Homo sapiens: one gene and its partner. The protein of the gene in region 2 purifies or fractionates together with the protein of the main gene of each other region. This does not show direct contact. Each region holds a gene or a part of one and is shown on either strand. Other genes may lie near its edges.

Region 1 (3,868 bases), about 110 Mb from region 2:
GATATTGTTTTCCTGATTACAACATTAATAACCTGTGATTCCTTTTCCAGAGACCACTACCGTCAACATTTTACTCTACTTTGCCATGTAAAATTAATACTACTTCCTTATGTGATAGAATAGTTTTAACCTTTCAAATTTCTATTAAAATATCAGATAGTATAATAGCATCATTATTAATTTAGTAGTTTAAAGAAAGTAGACAGTTAAGATACATATTTAATATAAAATGTTTAATTGGTATGGAAGGAAGAATATTAAAGTCAGAAAATTTGGGTTCTAATAATATTGGCTTCTTCATTGGTCTCAGCCTCTTCTTCATCATCTGCAAAATGAGGGCAACAAACTACACATTTCCTGAGAGCCCATCAAATTCTACAACTATTGACTACATTTATTCTATATTTAGAATGCCAATTTAAGAATTTTGATTAGCTATGGACAAATCTTAATAAAAAAATATTTTATCCTCAGATCACCAAAACTTTGGCGGCAGAACTTGGAGCTCTTTTTTCATGAGAGCAAATCTCTATTTCGCTAACCTCAATTTAAAGTAATCAATAATACCAACTTCAAAGTAAATTAAACTGAACTGTAAATCAATTATTTCTATGAACATACATATTGGTTATATGTGGATACACACACTATCACTGCTATAGTTATATATGATACACATATTATCATTTGATATAAGGATCCTCATCTTCCCAACTCAGAGATATCAAGATTTCATTTGTAGAATATCACACTGTAGTATTTGGGAGCTTAAAGAAAACCTGGGTCTTGGATCACCTACCACCAGGGATGGGTAAATGCAGGGGGGGAAGAAAAGCAGGAAAAAAAAAAAAAAGAAAACTTTGAGATTATGATAGCTATTCTCACCACCAGTGTACACAGTAATTACATGGGACACCAGTTAAAAATAGGTATTCTGGGCCAGGCGCGGTGGCTCACACCTGTAATCCCAGGATTTTGGGAGGCCGAGGCGGGTGGATCACGAGGTCAGGAGAGTGAGACCATCCTGGCTAACACGGTGAAACCCCGTCTCTACTAAAAATACAAAAAATTAGCCAGGCGTCGTGGCGGGAGGCGGAGCTTGCAGCGAGCCAAGATCGTGCCACTGCACTCCAGCCTGGGTGACAAAGTGAGTGAGACTCCATCTCAAAAAATAAAAAAATACAAATAAAAGATACTCTGACTCAATAGACAGGGGTGGAGTAAAGGAATTTATACTTTGAATGAAAGCCCTAGGTGATCCAAAGAGAGCCAAAGAAGTGCTCAAAAACCACTGATCCAATTCCTTCATTTTACAAAACAAAATCTGGACAACAAGAGGCTGTAACATGTTCAATGTTTTACAGGAGTATGTAACTTAAGTCCATAAATTAAATTTTCAATGAATGGTTAAACTTTTTTTTCAGCTTCTCTTTTTTATTTTTTTTGCTCTAGAAGATAACTAATTGATGCAATGGTGACTGTGTTAGTAAAACCTATGAGACACTCATGTCAAGTTATTTGTGGGTAAACTGTCTTTTACTGAAGAAATTTAGCAGTATATGCCAGGCACTGTTTTAACCCTGCCCTGTGAAATTTACATTCTATGTAGAGAGACAAACAATAACCAAGAAATATAATTAAATTGTCAACTGTTAGAGGAAAAGAATGCAGCAGGACAAGGAGATCAGGAGTGCCATTCAGAAAGTGCAGGTTGCAGTTGGAGTAAGGCAATTGCAATTTTAAATAGTCAAAGTAGGCCTCAATGAAAAGGGGCCTTGAAGGAGGGTAGCTGCAGTGATAGCTGAAGAAAGAGCTTTCCAAGAACTGGTTAAGGCAAAGGCAATCAGTCAGGAATATGCCTGGCCCATTCAAGTAAGAACAAGGAGACCAGTGAGGATGGAAAAGAAAAAACAAGCAGGATAATACAGGTTGAGTATCCCTTATCTGAAATCGTTGGGACCAGAAATGTTTCAGACTTGAAATTGTTTCCGCTTTTTAAATATTTGTATATACATAATGAGACTGGGGATAGGACCAAAGGCTAAACATGAAATTCACTTATGTTTCATATACACCTATACATATAGCCTGAAGGTAATTTTATATAATATTCTTAAAATTTTGTGCATGAAACAAAATTTGTATACATTGAACCATTAGAAAGCAAAGGTGTCACTATCTCATGTCAGTAATGAAAAAGCTTTGAAGCATTCTGGTTTTCACATTTTTGAATTCGGAATGCTCCACCTGTTTCAGGAGATGAAGTCAGAGAGGTCAAACAAGGAAAGGAAGTGAGCACATCACATAGGAATTTATAGGCAATTATGACTTTGGCTTTTACTGAATGAAATGGAAAGCTATTACAGTGTTTTCAGCAGAGGAGTGACATGATCTGATATGTTTTAAAAAGCTCACTCTGAATCATTAGTCATTAGAGAAATGCAAATCATAACCAGGATGATGCCACTTCACAACCACAAGGATGACTATTATCAGTAAGACAGGACAATAACAAAATATTGGCAAGGATTAGAGAAATTAGAAGCCTCAGATATTGCTGGTGAGAATATAAATGGTATGGCCACTTTGGAAAACAGTCTGGCAGTTCCTCAAGAGGCTAAACATAGTGTTACCATATGACCAGCAATTCCACTCCCAGGTGTAGACCCAGGAGAAATTAAAACAAACGTCCACACAAAAACCTGTACACAAATGTTCGCAGAAGCATTATTTCCAATAACCGAAAAGCAAAAACAACCTAAGTGTCTAACAACTGATAAATGGACAAATAAAACATGGTATTTCCATATGACAGATTATTTGGCAATAAAAGTAATGAAGTACTTATACATGCTACAACATGGATAAACCATGAAAACATTATGCCAAGTGAAAGAAATCATTTACAAAAGGCCACATATTGTACAAAACCACTTATATGAAATGTCCAGAATAGAAAATAGATTAGGCTGGCCATAGTGGCTCACGCTTGCAATACCAGCACTTTGGGGAGGCCGAGGTGGACAGATCACTTGAGGCCAGGAGTTCAAGACCTGCCTGGCCAACAGAGTGAAACCCAGTCTCCACTAAAAATACAAAAAACTAGATAGGTGTGGTGGTGCATGCCTGCAATCCCAGCCACCCAAGAGGCTGAGGTACAAGAATCACTTGAACACAGGAGCTGGAGGTTGCAGTGAGCAGAGATCATGCCACTGCACTCCAGCCTGGGCAACAGAGCAAGACTCCGTTTCAAAAGAAAACAAAAAAAGAAAAAGAAAGTAATAGATTAGTGGCTGCCAGTGTCCGGCAGCTGTGAGGAGGAATGGGGAAGGACTGCAAGTGGGTACAGGGTTTTGGTTTCATGGGAGAAAAAAAAGGTTCTAAATTTAGAGTGTGGTAATGGTTGGTTGCACAACTCTGTAAATGTATGAAAATACATTGAATTGTACAATTTAAGTGGGTGATGGCGTATAAAAAACGTCTTGATAAAACGAAAAAAAAAAGGATCACTCTAGTTGGAAAAAGAGAACAACTCTTTCAAGAAGTTTTGCTGAAAGAGAGTAAAACAATGAAGTATAGTCTATGGGGGAAGTTTGGGTCAAGAGATGATTTTAAGATAGAATAGGCTGGGCATGGTGGCTCACACCTGTAATCCCAGCACTTTGGGAGGCCGAGGCAGGCGGATCACGAGGTCAAGAGATTGAGACCGTCCTGGCCAACCTGGTGAAACCCCGTCTCTACCAAAATACAAAAAATTAGCCGGGCGTGGTGGTACATGCCTGTAGTCCCAGCTACTCAGGAGGCTGAGGCAGGGGAATCACTTGAACCCAGGAGGTAAGAGATTGCAGTGAGCCGAGATCGCGCTACT
Region 2 (3,820 bases):
GCTCCTTCTCTCTCAACATGCACTCCAGTTAGTGAACTGTTTGGGCCTTTTCACTTCCAGAAGGAGTACTGAACCATCTATGTTGTAAGAATCATCCCCTACTCCTTTTTTTATTTTCACTGAAAAGGGAAAAGGTGATCTCTGGGATCAACTTCTGATAGAAGTCAGGCTCTCCTTTGACCAGTGGGGGGTGCTGTCTTCCAGGTGTCTGGGTCCAGTCCTTTGGGAGCTGAATCATAGTTCAGTCTCAGCTGTTCCCCACTGAGCAATTCTGAGCTGGGAGGGCTGGCTTTGTGTGGGTGGGTGAGTATGAAGCTTATAAATGCAATACAGACAATACTGTCACTGGGTGTGGGGCCAGCAGACAGCATACAAGCAGGTCCTCCAGGGCTATAGTCCTCTGCAGCACAACTCTGCCAGTGCCCATACCTGACTACTGCTCTGAACCAGTTCATCCCAATAGGAGTGGGTGGGGAGGGCGGAAAGAGGGAGGAGGGTATTGGGAGGTGGTGAAGAAAGGACCGTGCTTGGGTGTTTAGATTGCTAAGTCTTGTTTCCTTTGTGCTGACCTGCTAGGGAGACTCCCTTGGCCTCCTTAGACTGCGATTTCTTTTTTTTTAAATGAATGGGAGAACAGTTCACCCTGGGACTCTTGAGTCTATCTGGGACTGCTAGAATTCAGCAAAGGTGCAAAGCAGGGGATTTTTAAGATTTTTGGCTCATGCCTGTAATCCCAGCACTTTGGGAGGCCCAGGCTGGAGGATCTCTTGAGGCTGGGAGTTCAAGATCAGCCTAGACAACATAGGAAGACCCCATCTCTACAAAATAAAAAACAATCAGCTGGGTGTTGTGGAGCATGCCAGTAGTCTCAGCTACTTGGGAGGCTGAGGTGGGAGGATCACTTGAGCCCAGGAGTTGGAGGCTGCACTGAACTATGATTGTGCCATTGCACTCCAGCCTGGGCAACAGAGCGAGACCCTGTCTCTAAAAAACATGTATTTATTTATTTATTTATTGAGACGGAGTGTTGCTCTGTCTCCCAGGCTGGAGTGCAGTGGCATGATCTCAGCTCACTGCAACCTCCACCTCCCAGGTTCAAGTGGTTCTCCTGCCTTAGCCTCCCTAGATGCTGGGATTACAGGTGCTTGCCATCACACCTGGCTAATTTTTTTTTTTTGTATTTTTAGTAGAGACAGGGTTTCACCATGTTGGCCAGGCTGGTCTTGAACTCCTGACCTCAGGTGATCTGCCTGCTTTGGCCTCCCAAAGTGCTGGGATCACAGGTGTGAGCCACTGTGCCTGGCCAAAAACATTTTTTTAAAAGAAAAAAATTTTTTTTTTTTTGAGACAGAGTTTCGCTCTTGTTGCCCAGGCTGGAGTGCAGTGGCATGATCTTGGCTTACTGCAACCTCTGTTCCCGGGTTCAAGCGATTCTCCTTCCTCAGCCTCCCAGGTAGTTGCGATTATAGGCGCCTGCCACCATGCCTGGCTAATTTTTGTATTTTCGGTAGAGACAGGGTCTCACCATGTTGGTCAGGCTGGTCTCGAACTCCTAACCTCAGGTGATCCACCTGCCTTGGCCTCCCAAGTGCTGGGATTACAGGCATGAGCCACCACACCCCGCCTAAAAGAAAAAGATTTTTATTGTTCTCCAACTGACCCTGAAGGGAGCAAGCAGAATAGAGGGTATCTCATTTCTGTGTTTCCACAAAGCCACTGAAACAGGAATTTCATAAGGGTTCCTTCTGTCACCTATTTTCCATTTCTCTCCTTTGTCCCCAAACTTGCCCCTGTGCAGCAGCCAGCTCCTGTCACCATCTCTCTTTCAGAGGACTCCTGATGGATTTGACTCAGTGCCGCTGAAGACATCCTCAGGAGGCCTAGACATGGACCTGTGAGAGGCACTGCCTGCCTCACCTGCCTCCTCACCTTGCATAGCACCTTTGCAAGCCTGCGGCGATTTGGGTGCCAGCATCCTGCAACACCCACTGCTGGAAATCTCTTCATTGTGGCCTTATCAGATGTTTGAATTTCAGATCTTTTTTTATAGAGTACCCAAACCCTCCTTTCTGCTTGCCTCAAACCTGCCAAATATACCCACACTTTGTTTGTAAATTATGCCCTTGCTTGTATCTTGTTTCCCAAAATGGCCCATCCGCCAGAGCCATAGCTTCGTCTGCTCATAATTCTTATAGCTTTGGAATGAAAATATTTCTATCTTCTTAAGTATAGAAACTATTTCCTCTGTCCTCTAACTTAAGGGCAGAAACAGCTGGGAGTTTTCCTCGCATGCCCTCAGCTCATGATCTCTTCAGGAGAGAGGCTGGGTGAGGAGGGTGTCGGGGTTCCCTGGTGGATAATCTTCATAGCAGCCTGGATCCATTTCCCCTGGATAACCAGCTCAAAGGGAGTGAAAATGGTAGTCTGAGGGCAAGGGGAGCAAGGCCTGGGTAAGAAAAGCCTTGAAAAGCATAAAAAGAGGCCGGGCGCGGTGGCTCACGCCTGTAATCCCAGCACTTTGGGAGGCCGAGGCGGGCAGATCATGAGGTCGGGAGATTGAGACCATCCTGGCTAACACGGTGAAACCCCGTCTCTACTAAAAATACAAAAAATTAGCCGGGCGTGGTGGCGGGTGCCTGTAGTCCCAGCTACTCGGGAGGCTGAGGCGGGAGAATAGCGTGAACCTGGAAGGCGGAGCTTGCAGTGAGCCGAGATCGCGCCACTGCACTCCATCCAGCCTGGGTGACAGAGTGAGACTCTGCCTCAAAAAAAAAAAAAAAAAAAAAGAAAAGCACAAAGAGAGGCAACAAGGAATGTTTTTGTTTTTGAGACAGGCTCTCACTCTGTCACCTAGGCTGGAGTGCAGTGGCATAATCACTGTTCAGTGCAGCCTCAAGCTCTTGGGCTCAAGCTATCCTCCCATCTCAACCTCTCAAGTAGCTAGGACTACAAGTGTGCACCACCAGGCTCACTAATTTTTATATTTTTTGTAGACACAGGGTTTCACCATGTTGCCCAGGCTGGTCTCCAACTCCTGGGCTCAAGTGATCTGTCCGCCTCAGCCTCCCAAACTGCTGGGATTACAGGCATAAGCCACTGCACTCAGCCTTTTATTTGTTTTTTAAACCACGTAGCTCATTGCCTTCTCTTAAGTAAATGATAGATATTCTCACTGAAGCCAAAGGAATAAGTTCATCAAGAAAATGCCCAAAGCCCTGGTGGATACATCCTCCCTATCTTTTTTTTAAACCTTCCACTATCACTCTATGACACTGAAAAGAACCAGGTAAGCCCCAAACCCAGATGTTCCAGCCTTATCCTCTGTTGGGTTTACCCACAGACATAGCAAACCCTGTCAGTGAGGAAAATTCCCCATCCTTGAGTGCCCCCGTCCTAGAAGTTTGGGCCATATTATGGAACAGGGGTCTCTTATTTGAAAAGAGCACAAGGAGGCCAAGATTTTAATGGGGCACTTTAGGGGATACAGCCCACAATGGCATGGGCCTGAGGTGGCCGTGATGTCTGCTTCTAAGCTTAACGCATCTGCTCAGGCACAGAATAAACGTCTAGGCTGGCCAAAAAAGGAACTGAATCCCAGGCCCATACGCCAGCACCAGAATCAAACCAGTCTTCAAGGAAGGAAGGCTAGGAGAGTTTAACAAGATTTTCACTGGGCCCAGCATGGTGGCTCACACCTGTAATCCCAAGGCAGAATGGTGGCTTGAGCTCAGGAGTTCAAGACCAGCCTGGGCAACACAGTGAGACCCTGTCTCTAAAAAATTTAAAAATAAACAAGGTGTTCACCAAGCTGGGATACTTC

What was found.
Region 1: the proteins of ELAPOR1 (region 2) and TAF1A purify together in Homo sapiens (affinity purification with mass spectrometry; one large-scale study listed by BioGRID and IntAct). This does not show direct contact.

The regions. Positions count from the first base shown.
Region 1 is NC_000001.11:222,579,934-222,583,801, forward strand, and holds part of TAF1A (TATA box-binding protein-associated factor RNA polymerase I subunit A), read right to left. Parts: intron 1-3,868. UniProt on the Homo sapiens protein: Component of the transcription factor SL1/TIF-IB complex, which is involved in the assembly of the PIC (pre-initiation complex) during RNA polymerase I-dependent transcription.
Region 2 is NC_000001.11:109,201,115-109,204,934, forward strand, and holds part of ELAPOR1 (endosome/lysosome-associated apoptosis and autophagy regulator 1), read left to right. Parts: intron 1-204; coding exon of another isoform or gene 205-240; exon of another isoform or gene 241-424; intron 425-1,798; coding exon of another isoform or gene 1,799-1,829; coding exon 1,830-1,898; 3' UTR 1,899-3,820. UniProt on the Homo sapiens protein: May protect cells from cell death by inducing cytosolic vacuolization and up-regulating the autophagy pathway. May play a role in apoptosis and cell proliferation through its interaction with HSPA5.